Linked DNA regions of Homo sapiens. The protein of the gene in region 3 interacts with the protein of the main gene of each other region in a pairwise test. Each region holds a gene or a part of one and is shown on either strand. Other genes may lie near its edges.

Region 1 (4,842 bases), on a different chromosome or scaffold from region 3:
GAAAAAAGGGAAGCAAAGGAAGACAGACACCCCGCCCTCAGGGTGCTCCCCCCATGATGGGCCAGGGCTGCAGGGGAGCCAGCCGAGGCAATGCCTGCTTAGGACGAGGGAGCCGAGGTGGGCTTCTCCTCCCGCGACACGGGGATGGCTCGCTCGGCGTGGGTGGCATCCAGGCCAGTCTGGATCTTGGGGCCACAGAAGGTCAGCATGCCATCGGCAGACAGGGAGCAAGAGAGGGCCGACTGGTCCACGTTGGACGGCAGGCGGTAGCGGCGGTGGAACTCACGGGAAATGTAGCCGTGGTCGTCCTGGAGAGGGTGGGGGCGCACAGTCAGGGGGGCCACTGTGCAGGCGGCTGCCTCGCCCCATGCCAGAGAAGCTGCCCCAGCCCCACTGACTGCAGAAGGGGGCCAGCCTGCGGGGGCTCTCACAGGGGCCGGGTGCAGCCAGCACATCCCATGGCCAGGCCCCCTGGGATTTATGGATTCATGCCCCTGCTTCTCTGGACCTCAGCCTGGCCTCGTGGCCACTTGCCGGGCTATTCCCCGCGGGGGGTTGTCTCTTCCCGCTCCATGGCTTCACTCCAAAATCGCAGGATCATTCCAGACCAGGCCCCGCACCTCAGCCAGTCTTCCCCTTCCAGACCCCGCAGGACTGCTCTAGCCCAGGTCTCTGCAGCCCTACCTAATGTGGCCAGACGACCCACATGCTTCCACGTCCCCTGGACGCCCTAAACCGCAGACTCAGCTCCCTGGGCTGACCTCCTCCTCCACTGGGTGCAAAGACCAAGAGCTGGGAGCTCAGGAAGCATGTTCCAGGCTGGCTGGGGCTACGTGGGGGCTTTACCGGGCCCAGGCGAGGGAGGGGCAGCACATGAGGAGGTCAGCGTTCACCCCCCAGCACCACCTTCTCCAGCCATTGAAAGAGGACCCTGGCCAAAAGAAACCAAGACTTTGGCTAAGAGTTCCACCTTCCAGCCCCACTCTGCTCTCCAGCCCCCGCGGGGCACTGTCCATCTGTGACAGTCCATGAGCTCTTCCCGGCTCCGCCAGGAGATGCAGGTCACCAGGGCTCCAGTGCCCCGGCTCCCTCAACACCACGGAGATCCGAGGCCTCCAGCCGAGCAAGAGCGGGGCATCAGGGTGACTGTGGGGAGAAGCTCCCGTCCACCTGCCCGGTACTAGCTGTGGGACCCAGCAGGCTGAGGACCCCCTTGTTCCCCAGCCGTGCCCTGGAATAATGAGGACACTGGTTCCAAAGTGCTGCTGTGAGGCGAAGGTGTCAATGCCTGTAAAGCATTCCAAGCGGATGCAGCTATGCCGTCGGGGACTGGCTTCCTCAGGTAGGGTTCATGTGAAGATGTACACTGGCTAGGAGGCGGCCACCCGGGGCACTCCCACTTCCTGGGGTTCTTTCTAAGACCACCCTGGCATCCAGGTGACAGGGATGGAGCTGGCGACGGCTGGGTGCAGCCCGGGAAGGGACCCTAACCTGGATCCCTGAGCCACATTAGCTCGGGAATGGTGACCTCTGTCACCGGGAGGGGCTGGCTGTGCTCAGGTGGGCACGGCCCCTCCCTTGGGGAAAAGCCAGGCCTGATTCGGGGTCCCCTGGAGAGCGTCCCTCTCCCAGGGTTGAAGGCATGGTGCAGGTGTGCAGGCCCGGTCGTGCCCGCCGTGACCCCCTTGTCCTCGCGCCCAACTCGCCCCCCTCTCCCACCTCTCAGTGCCTGGGCTCACCTGGCGCTCGTTGTGCTTTCCGTGGATCTCCACAAAGTCGTCCTGCACCTTCACGGTGAGGTCCTCCGGGGAGAAGTGCTTCACATCGAGGAAGATGACGAACTTGTCCCGGTCGGATCGAACCTGAAATCCAAACGTGCCATGTGGAGCTGCCCAGAGGGTGCCGTCCCTGCTGGGGTTGGCAGAGACAGGGCGGGTCCCGGTTATCAGAACAGAGATGCTTCGGTCACCTGCCGGCCTCTTCTCCCACACACCAAGTGGGGCAGAGCTTTCGGGGGCCTGTGACTGTCTCCTGGACAGACAGGCATGACCCTCGACCTGTCTCCAAACCCTCAGGGCCAGCTGAGGGGCTGAATGCTACTGGTGGGCCGGCTGGTTGTTTGGCTATGGTCAGGTGGCTGGTTATAGATAAGTTGGCTGGTTATGGGCTGGCTGGCTACTGGTTATGGTAGGAGGGGTCGTTACGGGTTGGTTGGTCCGTTAGGGTCAATCGTCTGGCTGGTGATGCTTGGCTGGCTGGCTGGACTCAGCCTGTGGAATGAGGTCACTGCCCTTGGTGTCATGCTGTCTATAGAAGCGGCCGGAGCCTGCTGACAGCCTGCGCAGCTGCCTCTCCAAAACGCACTTCCACATGCTCCTTCTCACTCCCCTGGCTCAGCCTTGGCTCCCTGAGGCATTTTGCACCCTGGCGTTGATGCCTACTGCAGCAGCCCTGGGGAGGACCCTGTTTATGAGGTGCTGGGTGGGACTCAGGCCCTCCAGAACAGCAGAACCTGCACCGCTCACCCGTGGCTCAGAGAGGAGGCCTGTGGTTGGGTGGGGGGGGGGGCGTCCATTGCCTGTCCTTTTAGCCTTGGCAGGGCACCTAAGTAAACTTGCCAAGAGCTTTGCTAGCCGTGGGCAGGCCGAGCTCATTGGAGGAGGTGCTAGGAACGCCCTGCTCTCTGGCTTTCAGGACTATGACCCCCACCTGCTCCCAGGTCTCCGGGACTCAGGAGACCAGAGGAACCCGGGAGCTGGCATTCGCCACCACGCATGCCTGGATGGGCTGCTCTTGGGGTTTCCAGTATGTGGCTGGTGCCTTACAAAGCACACATGGGTCATGAGCTGATGGAGGAAAGCAAAGGTGGATTCAGGCTGCTCCCTTGTCCACCCTCTCCCCAGTGCCAGGGGAAGCTCTGCCACGTGGCTGCAGTGGGGACACAGGCTCTCGCCCAGCCTCTGCAAGGGGATGAAGTGGGACGAGGCCACCTGCCTGACGGAGCAAGACCAGAGTCCATCGCTCTCCACCCACCGAGGCCACCACCCTCTGAGCAGCGAGGAGAGGCCAGCACCACGGGCCACGTCTTACCTCAGAGATGCCGGAGTCCAGCACGGTGCGGAAGAGGGACTGGCGGTAGTAGGGGCTGATGGTGGACGACAGGAAGGGCAGCAGGTCATACTCAAAAAGGCCCTCGCCGAAAAACTGGTCGAACAGCCGGCTGGGGTAGAAGGGCCCCAGGGTGCGCTTGAACCAGGGGTGCTGGATGGTCACGTCCATGTTCAGCTTTGGTACCACGGGGACCTGGAGGCTGGCAGGAGTCAGCGGGGCCTCTGGGCAGCGCAGTGTGGAGCCAAGGCCGAGCCCTCCCTATATATGCCACCAGCAGAATGGAGGCATTAAGGGATTTCTCTGGAAAGGCGTGAGCTCATGAAGAAGGCTGCTCAGTCAGCAGAAACGTGGCTGGGACAAGTGCCCGCCCCCAGCCCCAGGAGGGGCTGCACGGACTGTCCCCGAGGCCTGGACTCAGCTGAGGCCCGCCTGGGCACCCTGGGGCTCCCGGGAGGGCAGACAACCCAAGGAGGCGCCTGTGCCCCATACTCGCCTGGGGCGACAATGGAGCTTCTCATCTGCCAGTCACTGGGCAGGGGCTACGTGCCAGGGACCATGCTAGTTCTCTGCACACCTTGTCCTGCCGGGGTGGTCCTCATGGTCGCCAGAGGAGGGAGAGCACACACCCCCGTTAGACACAGAGGTTAGACACATCGTCCTCAGAGTCTCACCGGGCCTGGGCAAGAGTGCACTGGTTTCCAAAGCGGAGTGCATCTGTGAACCTCCGTTACACTCACCACTTACAAAAGTACGCATGCTTGTTAAAACTCGTGGAGAAGAAGCTGCAAGGTGCCATAATTCCAGCACCTGGGGGAGCCCTATGGCGTTTCATGCTTGTCCTCCAGGGGTCACATGCCTCCAACAGGAAGACGGGCTGGGCTGTGGGCAGATGAGAGCACCACGTGGTGAGCTTCCCTCTGCGGCCCACCCTGGACGCCCAGCCCCATGGCCATCGTCCCCTCGATGTAACGCCTCGAGCGTTACATCTCGTAATGATGTAATGCCTTGATGTAACATCCCCACGTAACGCCTCGAGCCTCCGTGGCATGACCTGCCGTGGCTGTTGAGTTGGGCTGCTCCTGTCAGGGTGGCGACATGTCCCCACGTCCCTGTCACCCATGCGGACCCACCACCCACATGATCCTGTTATCCACAAGTCCTGGTGATTATTTTGCTCCTCGACCCATGGCCCCTGTCCAGTTCTCACTAAGTGTCCAGGCACTCCCGGTTTTGTTTGTTTGTTTTTGAGATGGAGTCTTGCTGTGTCACCCAGAGTGGCGCCCAGATCATATAGTGGCGCGATCTCAGCTCACTGCAACCTCTGCCTCCCAGGTTCAAACAATTCTCCCACCTCAGCCTCCTGAGTAGCTGAGACTGCAGGTGCCTGCCACCACACCTGGCTAATTATTATTATTATTATTATTATTATTATTTTTGTATTTTTAGTAGAGACAGGGTTTCACCGTGTTGGCCAGGCTGGTCTCAAACTCTTGACCTCAGGTGACCCACCTGCCTTGGCCTCTCAAAGTGTAGGATTACAGGCGTGAGCCACTGCACCTGGCTCACTCCTAGTTTTAAGTCTTTTGATATTTTGGTATTTTGATATTTTGGTAAACTGGCCCTGGGGAGCATGGTCCTCCCCCACATCCCCCCTGCCAGCCTGGGAAGAGGCCATGCCCCCTCTCCCAGGCTAGCTTTTCTAGTGTACGGTCCAGGCTGTGGGAAGTTGCC
Region 2 (3,653 bases), on a different chromosome or scaffold from region 3:
CTTTGAATGGAAACAATCTAAAAACATTGCCATCTATTAAAAATATTTGTCAGTCCTAGTAAATGAGTGACAGTTTTAGCAAAAATTTACCTGGGTAAAACATTCATATCCAATTCAAAGGCAAGAGTTTTCTAAGAGGCATACCTGGTTTCCTTGAGTTTCTGACTTAGCTGACACAGACCAAAGAATATTCTGAATGCTCAATCTACTTTTTCTATTTTAAGTCACATAAATATATTTAATAGAAAACTCTGATAACAAGCACTTTACTTTCTGACAAGATGTTAAGATTTTCTGTCCTGGTATATACCACTTGTTTCCAATTATGTCTAAAAACTCCTAGACTCAGACATCCATATCAGGTATGATACATCAATCTAGCAAGGACTAGGAGAGATAAAAAGTAGACAATGAGGAGGAAAATACTTGGGTGGAATGAAAACTAGCGGCTTTACTTTATACAGTTGTTCAAGATATTGTTACTTGAACTCCAGACTAAAATTATGGATAGAGTATTAGTCCAATTTGAAAATATTCCTGTTTAATACCACTGGGTTCTCAAACCATTAACAACCACTGGAACAACAGGAAACAGTTCCTTAATAATTTTTGCCTTTTAAAGTCCCAAATAAAGAAGTTCTCTCTGCCACGCATATCTTCTCAAGTAACTGAGATCAACGTTTGGTAGGTTTCATTCTGCAGTATTTTTCTTTATATAGTACATTTTGCAATATTTTTCTTTAGTATCTTTAGACATATTTAAAACTTGGAGATTCATACAGTCCCTGAGGATCCTAATTAACTACATGGAATTCAAAAATTCTTAAAAAATTTATTATCTTTATTTAAAAAAAAATTACACACACACACACATGCATACACACAGGATTGGAAATTTTTTTTTTTTTTTAGAATACTAACACCATCTTTTATTTTTCCAAATTCCTACAGTCTTATGCCACTTGACTCCTAGTTAACCAGGATATAAATGTATAATCTTTTCATATCATAGGTACCACTATCATTTCATCAATTTCCTGAAGTAAATTGAGTGAAATCATAAGCACACACTTAAGAGTCAGTATTTATTCTGATTAATATTTTACAAAATTTTGACATTTAATTTATGTAAGGAGGGCTAATTTATTAAACACTTTACAGGTTTTTCTTTCCACAGAATAACACGGTAAGTAGCAAAATAATACTTGGCACAGTTATAAATAAAGAAAATATAAAATAAAAACATCCATAGCTTAAGTACAATGATGCTGTTTTACGCCCATTAATATCAAATAAATTCCTGGAAACAACAAAAATATGAATGAAAAAAAACTCCAAGGAAGTAATTCATGTTCAGTGCTGAGAATTAAGTTCCTATTTGCTAAAAGTATCCAATTAAGTTGATAAGAACTATTCCCAAAGGTTCACCATCATACACAACTTTAGAACTGGGTTTATAGTTGGTTCCACACACAGGACCTACAAAATAATTAAACAGATGGTATACTGCTGCATAGCTGGCTCCTGACCATCTGACCATTTCTGAGTTATAGATTTCACAGGTACTACAAGATGGTTACTACAAAAGCATTCACATTGCTAGTATTTTCCATGTAATTACACATCTAGAGGTTTGTCTTTTTAACTGAATGACATCTCTTTTGCACTGAAAATATTGTACCACAAACAAAGAAGATGGTAACAACATTCTTAGCCAAACTCTGAAAAAACCACCATAGTCTTTAACTGTTGATAAAAATGTATTCGATAAAAATGCAACTGAGTCTTCATGTGAAGTGGCTCAAAATACAAAAAATTAAAACAAATTCTAGCATTTTATAAATAACTTTGAATTTAAAAATTATCTAAAATTTCCCCCAATTAGTAGTCAAAACTAGCTGACATTTGTAAAGTTAACCAATTTTTACATTCTATGACAAAATGGCACAATGCTATTGCCACCCCACACCCATCTCTTCCCTTTTCAAAAATAAAGTACATATGCCAATTTTCTAATATTAAAACACATACACTAAGGGTAATCTTTTTTTGATGTGTGACTTATGGTCAAATAAGCTACTATATAAAAATGGTACTTGGAAATACTGAACATCAACTATATACATTTCACTGCTCCTCTTACTAAGGCAAGGGGCGGGTATACCACTAGATTGCTTTAATACCTGTAATCTGCATTTTACAGGGAAGACTAGTTTTACCAAGCATCAGACATGCAGTGAACTTGCAGGGTATAATGCCTATTAACAGCAATTTTGAACATCACTAGAAGCTCATTAGTTATCTCCCTTTTCTTTTTGGTTGGACAAAATGAAATGAGCAGCTTTAAAAACACTAACACAGACACAAAGAGAAAACTATTTGATAAATTATTTATATACAGATACACATTCTTTACATTGGTCTAGGATCTGTCATCAGTCTGACCACCATTCCCCCACATCTCCCACCCCATTCCCTCTCACAGATTTCCCACAGGTTGCTCGAACCACAGTTTGCTACAGCACTTAAGATGAATAAACCAAATCTCACCCTGTAAACAATATTTATGGAAGCAGTGACTAGTAGTCCACCATGAAGGTATGAAAATGCTGTGACAAAAATTGATCAGTGCATCACATTTAACAAAAAGAAAATTTTTTCTAAAACTGTTTCAGAACTTACTCAATATTGGATAAACTGAAATACTCTTGGGGATGAAATTCTACTTTCTGATAGGTCATTTTATTGAAACCAGAATATACTGTCAGCTTTTCTTTTATTCACATGTGCTATGTACTTAGATCATGCTCCATCTTTAGTTAAATGCCATTATTTTGTCTACAATTATTTTGCAGCTGAGAATTTAAAAGGAAGTATATCCATGTATCACTATTACTGAGAATTTTGCATTATTTGTTCTGCCTTTTCTTGAAAATACCACCTTAACCCTTAAAAATGGAACTGTTTTTGAACATCAAATTAAATTCTAATTTATGCTTCACTGGATAGTATCTGCTAGTATACATTCTATGTGGTGTGTCATGCAATTAGCAGGGCTTTTAAATTTGAACAAAAAAACATGACTTACTATACTCATGCAAGTGCTTCATTATCAGACCGTAAAACCTCAGAGTAAGGTTACTACAAATTATTTCACTGAACTAGAAATATATCAGCATTGCAACAGCTGATAGAAACAAAACATTGTTAGCACATTTTATTGTGAACATTATTTTCTCCTGCCTTTGAAGACAACATCACAGTAGATCCCAATCACATGATTTTCATCACAGTATTTATGTGTACATTCTGAAATGTACATAATAACTAGTCAATCAACTTAAAACAATGCTCCTGGAATTAGATGCAATACTCGTACTAGACTGCATCATAACATTTAGCCAAATAACATAAATTTAGTTTTAGTTAAAACTGAACATTTCTGATCAGTACACCATGTCTGTCAATAGAATAAGTTTACCCTTTTTTTGTGAAAAATACTGTGAGAACAAAACCCAAAAGTTGAGTATGTTGTGAATTTCCACATTAAGAACCATTAAAATTATTTTTTATCATCTTTACTCTTCCCAGAAATGGCAGTGTGTTCTGTCCATGTTTACTTTTGTTAATAAAAGTGTTGAAAAAAAGACTGT
Region 3 (4,642 bases):
GTGAGTGCTGACTTCTTGGCCTGCTCTGCCACTGCAGCCTATGGACCATGGGCAAGCGCCACTGACCCCTCTGAATGCCTGCAACCTTTCCTTTCCCTGTGTGATGCTGGTGACCCAGAGCTGTCCCTTTCACAAAAATGTTCAAGAAGAACTAACTGAGTAAAAGCAAAAGCAAAGCATGTCAGCATAGATTTGGAGTCAGTAGACCTAAATTCAGTTATCAGCGTTGCTACCTACTAGCTATATGATCTAACCTCTCTTGAGATTCAGTTTCCCTGTTATAAAATGGGGATGATTGTAGTCCTCATCTTTCAGGGTTGTGGGAATAAAGTGAGACAAGAAAGCCATGAAAGGTGCCTAGCACAATGCTTAGAATGTCGTAGGCACTTGATGTTATTTCCATCATTAGCCACCATCACAAAGGCCTGATTGCAGATTAACTTGTTCTTTTTATCAAAAGCAACGTTAAGGATGCCTCAGGTACATGAAGACCATAACAAAGACTGGAGCTTATTTACTGTAGCAGATTTCATTTGAAATGCTTGGGAGCCATGCTTCCCAAATGAATGAGCTGGAAAAAAAATTACTGGCTAGATAATGGTGTCTAGGTGTGCACCCTCCCTCTTCCAGAGGCAGTGAGTTATCTGTGATCAAGCATGACTAGGCAGAAGGTAAACCCTCACCTGGATAAAGAACTCCTGCATTCTGCATTTTTCTGCAGAATGAGAGGTTTGCAGCTCAGAATAAGTGATAGGATATGATGTTAAAATGGTGATCATGGGAAATTTGAGAGGAAATCATACTTTTAAACCATCTGCTATGTGCAAAGGACTGTTTAAGGAATTTAAATTTTTTTATTTCATTTAATCCTCACAATAGCTATGATATAGGTTTTAGAATCTCCCAAATCCCATTTTACATATGAGAAACTAGGGCTTAGGGTTTAAAATTTAAGAAGAACATTGAATGTGTTAAATTCCTGACAAATAGCATGAGAGATATTAAAATACTCATTCTTTTCCCTTGACTTCAGTAGTGCTCAAGATCACATAGTTATTAAATGACAGAGCCGGGATTCAAACCCAGGTCCTTGATTCCAAAGCCCCTCCCAGAAGACATTCAGCATGTCGAGTAGAAGATGACAGTTACAGGCCTGGGTGCCTAGAAAAGCATGGCAATGATTAAAATAAGGTGCTTTTTTTCTTACTTATTGGAAAATGAATTACTGAATATCTACTGTGTATCAGGAATTGCCTGGGCTAGGGAGGCAGAGATGAAGAAGGCCATTGCTGCTTAACGGGGAGCTTGCAGTTGGACAGGGAGGTGAGGACAGTGCACACCATACGATGTGACAAAAGAAAAGTGTGTGTAACAAGAGCTTCTGGAGGGGAAGAAAAATTCCAGTTTGGATGGTAAAAGATGGTTATTGGTACAATATTTTCTTGCTACAATATTTTCTTGCTACAAAAGTATGAGTTAATTTTGTGCAATTTACAGTGAATTTTGTGAATATTAAGGGTGTTTTCATCTATGAGAATTTTTCATTTGTAATTTCATGCTTAAGTGGATCAGCATTCTTATCTTAAGGGTTTGGCATTTAACACCCAGGGGCTTTCAAAATGTCTTTTTCTAGAAGTGCTTGAATTGAAATGATTCCATGGATCCTACTATCTTTTTCTTTTCCTTATTCTTCATTATGGTCAGTACTTTCTGAATGCTTATTGGGTGCAAAGCACAGATAACATTCAGGACTTTATAGACAGAATATAAGTAAGATGTGGCCCTTGCATTCCCTGAGTTTTCAGTCCTAAAGAGAAATGGCAGGCTGTACTTTTGCCACAAGCCAAATACCCCATCTCTATTGGTAATACCTCCCTGTGGTTTAGCAGCGACCCTGACGGTTTTGGAGGGAGTCTGGCACCCAGCCTCTTTAGTTGGACCAGTTGGAGGATGAGGTTATGCTTGGAGCCATGGAAGTGATATTCAGATCTCAGAGTGTTAAGAGAGGACTGGGTCTTAGGTGCTGGTAAGGGGAAAGAAAAAGGTAACCGTGTTACCTTTTCTGGAGCATCCACTTTGTGCTAAGGTTTTATATACATTCTCTCATGTAATACTTCCCATATTCCAGGGAATAGGGTGGGAGGGAGTAGGAGCAAGGGAAGGGCAGTTGGCAAACGGGAGCCAGCAGAACCCTGCACACGGCATCCTTGAAGGGTGGTGTCGGCCTGAGGCGCCACGGCCAGTTCTGTGATGCTGGATATCTCAGTACACCCTGGGCATTTCTGCAGGCATGTTGGTTGCCTCCACTAATTCATCTTTCATGCTACCTGGTTACTGAGTTGTTTTGAACCATTCGGCAGAATTTATACATAAGTGTGTCCTTTGCTCATTCTGCCTGCATTTGTTGACAGCCCTTTTTTCCTTTCTTCTTGTTTTCTTCTGCCACTGCAAACTGGGGTTTTAGCCTCAAGCCCTATCCTGTTCCTGTAGGGTGTGTTTCAGATGCCAGCTTATTTCAGAGTTCCCTGTGAGCCAGCGGGTGCATAGAAGCTAGGTTGTTGTCTGCATTCTGATCTTGCATCCAGCAAGCCACACACATTTGAAGAAAGAATAGAGAGTTGTTTGGATCTGGCTGATTGAGCAACGCAGGCTTTATAATTGTGTCAAGCTAGGTCTTGTCAGACTGCATCGACTTAAGTAATATTCCATGTCAGGCCCACAGGTTTATGGCATTGAAGCCTCTTTGTTTCAGTCTCAGTCATCCTAAACAGACTTCATTTCCCAATAGAAAAGCTTTAGATGTGAATGAACCCCAAATACCTGAAAACATCCATTTTCTGCCTGCATGGCTACTGGTCCCAGAACCGTTACAATGCTAGTGCAGCCATGCATCCTTTTAAGTCCATCTCTGAACAGTATTGTTTGGTTATAACTGTATGGAGAATTAGGGAGCTTGATATATGTCCCTTTGCAATGCCTTCTAAGTCTTAATAGCCAAAACTGGGTGGTAAATATTATTTCCTTTTCCCTTTACTATGTGAATGATACTTAGACAAAACTTATATAACTATCTTAACTATGCAGACATTTACTTCAGCCCAGAGTGTCTGTGATCTTGACTATGAGAATCTTGTCTCTTGAGCTTTCTTTTTTAGCTTGAATATCTTTCTATATTTCGAAAAGATGGACCAGAAATATTTAAGTTACTACTTAAGTCAACACAGGATGAAAAGTTTTTAACTTCTTTAAAGGATTAATGAGGGTGCCCTCCAGGCCAATCCCAGTGTGCTCAGGAATTACCTCTCTTGTTGGGGATGTGACATGCTCTTGGCCAGAACAGAGCTCAGCCGGATGTCACTGTGCTCACTCAGCCTGTGGGGTGAGAGGCCGAGGATTGCTTCCTGTGGGCTGAGTAAGCCTTCCTGTGTTGTCAGCGACTGCCAGACTAGCTGCTGCCAGGCAGTACCAGCTTGCCCATCAGGCGCTCTTGTTGCCTAACTGAGACACTCTGTGCTTTCAGGAACGAGAGTACCCTGATGTCCAGACAGCCTCCCGTTGCTGTCTAAATATTTGTCTTGGATATGCTTGTAAGCACCACTGGGTTCCCAGCACTCTGAGTGGGCCTTCCTGGAGTGGGGAGCCTGTGTCGATGGAGCAGTGGGTGGGGAATTTGGAGATGGAAGCCAGGCCCTTGACTCAGAACTGCTCTGTACTTGAATGGAACTGAGCTATGCAGTATGGCCTGGTGGAAAGAATGTGATCATGGGCATTAGCCTCCAACAGACCTTGAGTGTGAATACCCGCTCTCCTGTTTATTGCCTGACCTTGAATACAACAGTTGATCTCCCTAAGCCTCGGTTGCTTTGTCTGTGAATCAGGGAAGAACACTAATACCTACTTTGCAATGTCGCTTTGAGAATTAAATGACAAGCTAGCATATAGAAGCACCTCAATAAATTAATATTAATTGTAACAACCACCACCACCATAACCTTCATGCAGAAATAATTACAGTTTAGGATTTGAATCCTGGCTGTCACCGTTAGGTAATATTTCCTAGCTATAATAAAACAGCTTACACTTGTTGAGGACTCATTTTGTGTTAGATATGCTAAATGGGTTCTCTCTTAATCTTCACAACAACCCCATGAGGTAGATACTGTTATCACCCCCATTTTACAGATGTGGAAACTGAGCACCAGAGAGGCTAAATTACACACCCAAGGTGATACTGCAAGAAATAAGGGAGGGAGGCTTAATAAAAATGCAGAGCTTTTTGATTCTTATGCTGGTAGTCTTAATTAATACCTCAGGTGCTTCAGGAGTAAATAAAGTAAGCCTCAAATTAAATAATAAATGTGAAGTGTCCTGTACATGGATATACACAATACATAGTGGAGGTCTTCCACCCGAGTGGCTTTTAATCTAAAATCTGAAAGTGGCTTGCACCCTTAGATATATGAGAGAGCTTAGTAAAAGTAAGAGTGACTGGAGGAGATCCTGCTGGGCTTGGCAGCTCTGAAGCTCCCATCGCACTCTCTGTCTTGTTCTCTCAATCTGACATGGTTTCCTGTGTCTTTTGCTCTAAGCAGCAGACCTGCTTGGACTGTAAGAAAAATTTTTGCATGACCTGTTCGAGCCA
Region 4 (4,838 bases), on a different chromosome or scaffold from region 3:
CCATAATTTAGATTTTCCTTCTGAATGACCAAAAATGCCTAAGGGGAGGAATTTTGGTCACTAAAGAAGAAAATGGCCAAGCGCGGTGACTCACGCCTGTAATCCCAGCACTTTGGAAGGCCGAGGCAGGGGGATCACGAGGTCAGGAGTTCAAGATCAGCTTGGCCAAGATGGTGAAACCCCAACTCTACTAAAAATACAAAAAATTAGCAGGGCATGGTGGCAGGCGCCTCTAATCCCAGCTACTTAGAAGGCTGAGGCAGAGAACTGCCTGAACTGAGGAGGCAGAGGTTGCAGTGAGCCGAGATCATGCCACTGCACTCCAGCCTGGGCGACAGAGCGAGACTCTGTCTCAAAAAAAAAAAAAAAAAAAAAAAAAGAAGAAGAAGAAGAATGTTTAGATTTGTCAGTTGAACCAAGTTTCAGAATATGGCCAGTTTTAAAGATGACACTTTCTCCTTGACCAAATTTCGAATGAGAGAAAAGGCTGCAAACTGTAAAAAGACAAGCAAAACCTCAGACAGAAGTGAAAATCACAAATCTGCAGTCAACAGAATCTCTAGAGAATAAAAATGGAAACTCCTACCTTTCAGTGGAGCTTCAGTTCTAACCCTATCAAATTATTAGTGTGTAAGTCTCAATCTTCAACTAAGCTGGGAGGATTCAGATCCCAAGACTGGCCTTACCAGAGACCCCTGCCAGCCCCAGTGAGGTCGAGTAAACAACAGTCGTTTGTGCTGGTACCAAGGCTCCAACTATTGATGCCACTACTTAGTGGCAATCCCTGAAGGCCTGCTTCAGGTCCTATCTGGGTTGCCAAAATGTCAACCTCAAATAATGAAATTCAGGAAATATGATTAAGTATAGAGTTTATTTGAGCCCAAAGCTTGAGGATGGCTCCCTGGGCACATGCCCCTAGGTTGCCCTGAACATATGTTCCCATTAGCAGCAGTCACAGTGGGGTTTTAAGGAAAAGGAAGAGGCAGTCCCTAAGTTGTTAGCAAGAATTTGCATTAAAATAACAGAAGGTGCTGATTGGCTATGCATCGTTCTTAGCATCACTAATTCCATGTGAACAAGAAGATAATGGGTGAGGCAGCCTGTCAGGAGCAAAAATTCCATCAAACAATTGCCCTGGACAGTTGCTTCTATGGTGGAAGAGGCGCTGAATGAAGTCCCACACTCCTGCCTCTCTGGGCCTGATCATTCTGCACACCTCACAGAGCTCAGACTACCCTATTTTTCTTTTCTCAGGAAAAATGGGTGGATGGTACTGGTGGCCCTGCCTGGTCTGATCATCTACCCTGGTTCTAGTAACCAGATTAATTCCTTGTAATAGAGCTGTGGATTTCAGTTCAGTTCCCACGCACAGACCTTACCTCTGCTTTCTCCGACCACTTCTCCCCCACCCCAGGTACTTCACAGCTGAGAGCCTCTTGCCAGCTTCCAACTCTCCAGCAGTCTTTGTTCCCAGACCGTGTCCTGAGGCTGCACTTTCTGGACATGCCCACCTGCTGGACTGGCATCTGTCTTGTCACTTCTCTGGCCTCACCTCTGCGAAAGGAACACAAAAGTCAGGACCCCAGTTCACTCTGTCAAAAGGAAAAGAATGAGCTGAAAGCTGAGTCATGTAAGCAGCTGCCTTTCCTTTCGTTCCTAAGCAGACGGCTACAGATAGAAGGTTCAACATCCGCTTCTCTTATGTAAAGTGCTGATTTGCTGAGGAGTGAGCTGTACACAGTCGACTGTTCCCAACCTGCTTCTTTTCTCTTGCAACGTGTGGATTACCACACTGTTCCGCTTTCCCCTCCAGCCCACTTTTCCCCTTTAAATACTGAAGCCCTCAAAGTCATCTTTGGAGAAAGGCACAGACCACAGACTGTTTCTGTGATACCGTGTTTTTTTTCCTCCCAGGCATTGTCCTTAACCTTGGCAAAATAAACTTCTAAATTGATTGAGCCCTGTCTCAAGATACTTTTTGGTTTAAACCTCTGAGGCCCTACTGTTTCTAATACAGGTTTCCAGTTTGCTCATCTTTCCCAGGTAGGAAGATGCTCTGTTGCCAAGAGAAATGCAATTCTAACACGCAAATCCGCCCAAACACTAGAGCTCAGCATTCAGCTCTAGCCGAGCTAAGAGGATCCCATGGTCCTGCCCCACAGTCTGGGGCTCATCTTGTGGAGGAGGTAAGTAAAATAGGCCCTGTCTCTCTGACTTCTACCTAATCAGAGTTGATAGTTGCGTTGGAAATTAGGTAAATCGCAGGTGAGTTGATGAATGTGGGAAACCAGATGAAAATGGCTGCTTGATGGGGTTAAAACGCAGGAGAGGAATAGAACCCTTCCAACGGAATGGTTCCAGCCTTGTGACATGAGGAGACTGAAAGGGTATCCCAGAGGCAGGTCACTGGCCTTCCAGCTCCACCTGTGGGTGGCCTTGGCCAGGCAACTGCAAGAGTGCAGGGCCCCGGGGAGGTCGCACCTGGCAAGCGCTGAGGGAGGGTAAAGCGGAGAGGGGTGTGAGAAGAGAAAAACAACACAGAGCGTCCGAGCTATGTGAGGCGTGCGAGGTTAATCCGGCCCGGAGAGACAGGTCTATGCGGCTTCAGCGGTCCCCACCCATGCCTGGCAATTGTTTAAAGGCACTATTGCTCCGGACCCGCTGCCTTCACCCATGAACTTCCTTTCCTGGAATTATGATATAAAGAACAACGTACAGCCAATTAATAGCTTGTTATTTTCATGTAAATTCTTGGTGAGCTATTTAAGAACTGCCCCCCTCTTAAGCTTTATAAACCCACTTGTCACTGTTGCAAATCCTATGTTCAGGGCAACTTGAAGCTATGCTCCCGGGTTGCAATCTTCAAACTTGGCCCAAATAACCTCTCTACTTATATCAAGTTTGCCTCAGCTTTTTTTTTCTTCTAGGTCGACGGTTCCCGCCCCGCAAGGGTGCAGGGAAGGGGACGCCCGCACTTCCTAGTGCTCCCTTAGCTGGGGTCGAGCTGAGCGCCCCCCACCGAGCCCCAGGCGGCTCTGTGGAGAAGCCCCTCGGCCCCGGGTTCGGTCTGCACTGCCAGCCCCCAGTCCCCGGCGCGCAGGATCCAGCAGGGCCAGCGCCGGGCGGGCGAGAAGGCGAGAGAGCTAGGGCCGGGCGGGGAGGGCACCGGCAGGGGGCGCGGGTTCCCAGGACCGAAAAGGCGGAGCCTCCCACGCGCACTACGTGCTCCCTACGCGCATGCGTCCCGCCCACGCGCAGGCAGCACCTCGCCTGACTGGGTAGCGCTGCCACGTCGGGGCGGGGAAGAGCGTCGTCGCGTCCGGGTGACGTCTCCCGCGGGCGTCGGCAGGGTCGGCGGCGTCGGCAGCAGTGTCGACGGCAGCGGCGGCGGCGGGTGGGAAATGGCGGAGTATCTGGCCTCCATCTTCGGCACCGAGAAAGACAAGTGAGTGGGAGCCCCCCGCCGGGGGTTGGGCGCGATCGGGGCGCAGGGTGGTTGAGGCGGTGGGAGGGCGACCGGGGAGGCCCAGGCGGGCCGGCGCGGCGGTGGCGGGGGAGGGGCGCGCGGCGGGAAGGAGCGGTGGCCCTTCCGGCCCCTTGCGCGCCCTCCGGAGCCGCCGCCTCGTGGGCCGCGCGGCGGAAAAATGGAGCGGGGAGAATGAATGGGGTCTCTTTTCGGGGCGCCGCGGCCGAGCTTTCTCCGGCCTTGGGGTCCGAACTGGCTGATCGCCCGACGTCCGGGCCTCCGAGTCGCCGGCTCCCGGAAGCCGCCTCGAGCCGCGCTGAAAGTTGCCTGGAGCATCCGGGCCTTTTGGACGTGGACACGTTTGTTCCAACTTTCGGCTGTGAATGTCCTGTCGAGCAAGCTCTGGTACCAGCCTCGCCAGTATTCAGTCGCTTATCTAACTTAGGGTCCTAAGCGTTGGTGTTTTATCCACTTAGCCAGCCTCTTGCCTGTTTAAGCGACCGCTGGGCCGGCAGTAAGGAGATATGACGAGAAAAAGTATGGTGGAGACTACTGGATTAACTATCTAACCACAAGAGACGTGATCCGCTCTTAACATACAGGTGCTCCTGGATTTACCATGGGATTGCGTTCCGATAAACCCATCATGAATCGAAAATGCCTTTAATACCCCGATAAACCCATCATCTAAGTTGAAAATTTGTAAGTCGGTGACTGTTCTTGAAGACACAATTCTGATATAAGGAAAAAGATGTTTTGATTTTTTCCTTAAGGTTGCATGCCTTCCCTAATCAATCGTTAGGTTAAAAGCAAAACATTTAATTTCAGCTTTAATTGCCACCTTGGCACGTACTAATTTCCAGTGAGTTGGCTGTAGTTTAGACTAAATGGAATGTTTTCAGACGTTTGAAGGATAATTCTTACTTTGAAAACCTAAAGACTCAGCATCTGGCTTAATCTACTCTTTAGTTATCTTGGCATTCTTCAGTGCCATACAAAGTTAACATGACTTTATGTTTTCAATGATAAACCCCTAAGTTTGTCATAGATGTTTTTAATGCCACTTTTTTCAAACGCTATTTAAAATGTTTCTCTTTTCCAGGATGGAGTCTATCTTGTAAAATGTCCTCTTCACACATGGTAGAATCTCCTGTGTTGTTTGGATGAGGAGGCTATATTTCTAGCAAAATTTTAAGCCAAAATCTACCAGTTATAGTCACTCCAGAAACATTTAGTGGGGGTCAACTATAGGTCAGTTTCTGGAGACTTAAACATGGGTAAAATTTGGATATTATCCTTAAGGAACTCACGGTATGATCTTGGCGAATGAATAGACCAGCTCTATCGGAACAAGAGACTCTTCTGAGTTTAG

Evidence for each region. The genes of interacting proteins can lie anywhere in the genome.
Region 1: the proteins of RFFL (region 3) and CRYAA interact in binary tests that used the Homo sapiens proteins (3 or more experiments, as listed by UniProt).
Region 2: the proteins of RFFL (region 3) and ZDHHC17 interact in binary tests that used the Homo sapiens proteins (3 or more experiments, as listed by UniProt).
Region 4: the proteins of RFFL (region 3) and alpha-crystallin A2 chain interact in binary tests that used the Homo sapiens proteins (3 or more experiments, as listed by UniProt).

What each region holds. Positions count from the first base shown.
Region 1 is NC_000021.9:43,167,537-43,172,378, reverse strand, and holds the start of CRYAA (alpha-crystallin A chain), read right to left. Parts: upstream 3,372-4,842; 5' UTR 3,280-3,371; coding exon 3,091-3,279; intron 2,144-3,090; exon of another isoform or gene 2,048-2,143; coding exon of another isoform or gene 1,970-2,047; intron 1,863-1,969; coding exon 1,740-1,862; intron 1,343-1,739; exon of another isoform or gene 797-1,342; intron 309-796; coding exon 99-308; 3' UTR 1-98. UniProt on the Homo sapiens protein: Contributes to the transparency and refractive index of the lens. In its oxidized form (absence of intramolecular disulfide bond), acts as a chaperone, preventing aggregation of various proteins under a wide range of stress conditions.
Region 2 is NC_000012.12:76,851,115-76,854,767, reverse strand, and holds the end of ZDHHC17 (palmitoyltransferase ZDHHC17), read right to left. Parts: 3' UTR 1,072-3,653; downstream 1-1,071. UniProt on the Homo sapiens protein: Palmitoyltransferase that catalyzes the addition of palmitate onto various protein substrates and is involved in a variety of cellular processes.
Region 3 is NC_000017.11:35,021,732-35,026,373, reverse strand, and holds part of RFFL (E3 ubiquitin-protein ligase rififylin), read left to right. Parts: intron 1-4,592; coding exon 4,593-4,642.
Region 4 is NC_000021.9:6,497,736-6,502,573, reverse strand, and holds the start of alpha-crystallin A2 chain, read right to left. Parts: upstream 3,372-4,838; 5' UTR 2,801-3,371; intron 1,555-2,800; 5' UTR 1,380-1,554; intron 1-1,379. Other genes in the region: splicing factor U2AF 35 kDa subunit-like protein, read left to right, coding at 3,402-3,445. UniProt on the Homo sapiens protein: Contributes to the transparency and refractive index of the lens. In its oxidized form (absence of intramolecular disulfide bond), acts as a chaperone, preventing aggregation of various proteins under a wide range of stress conditions.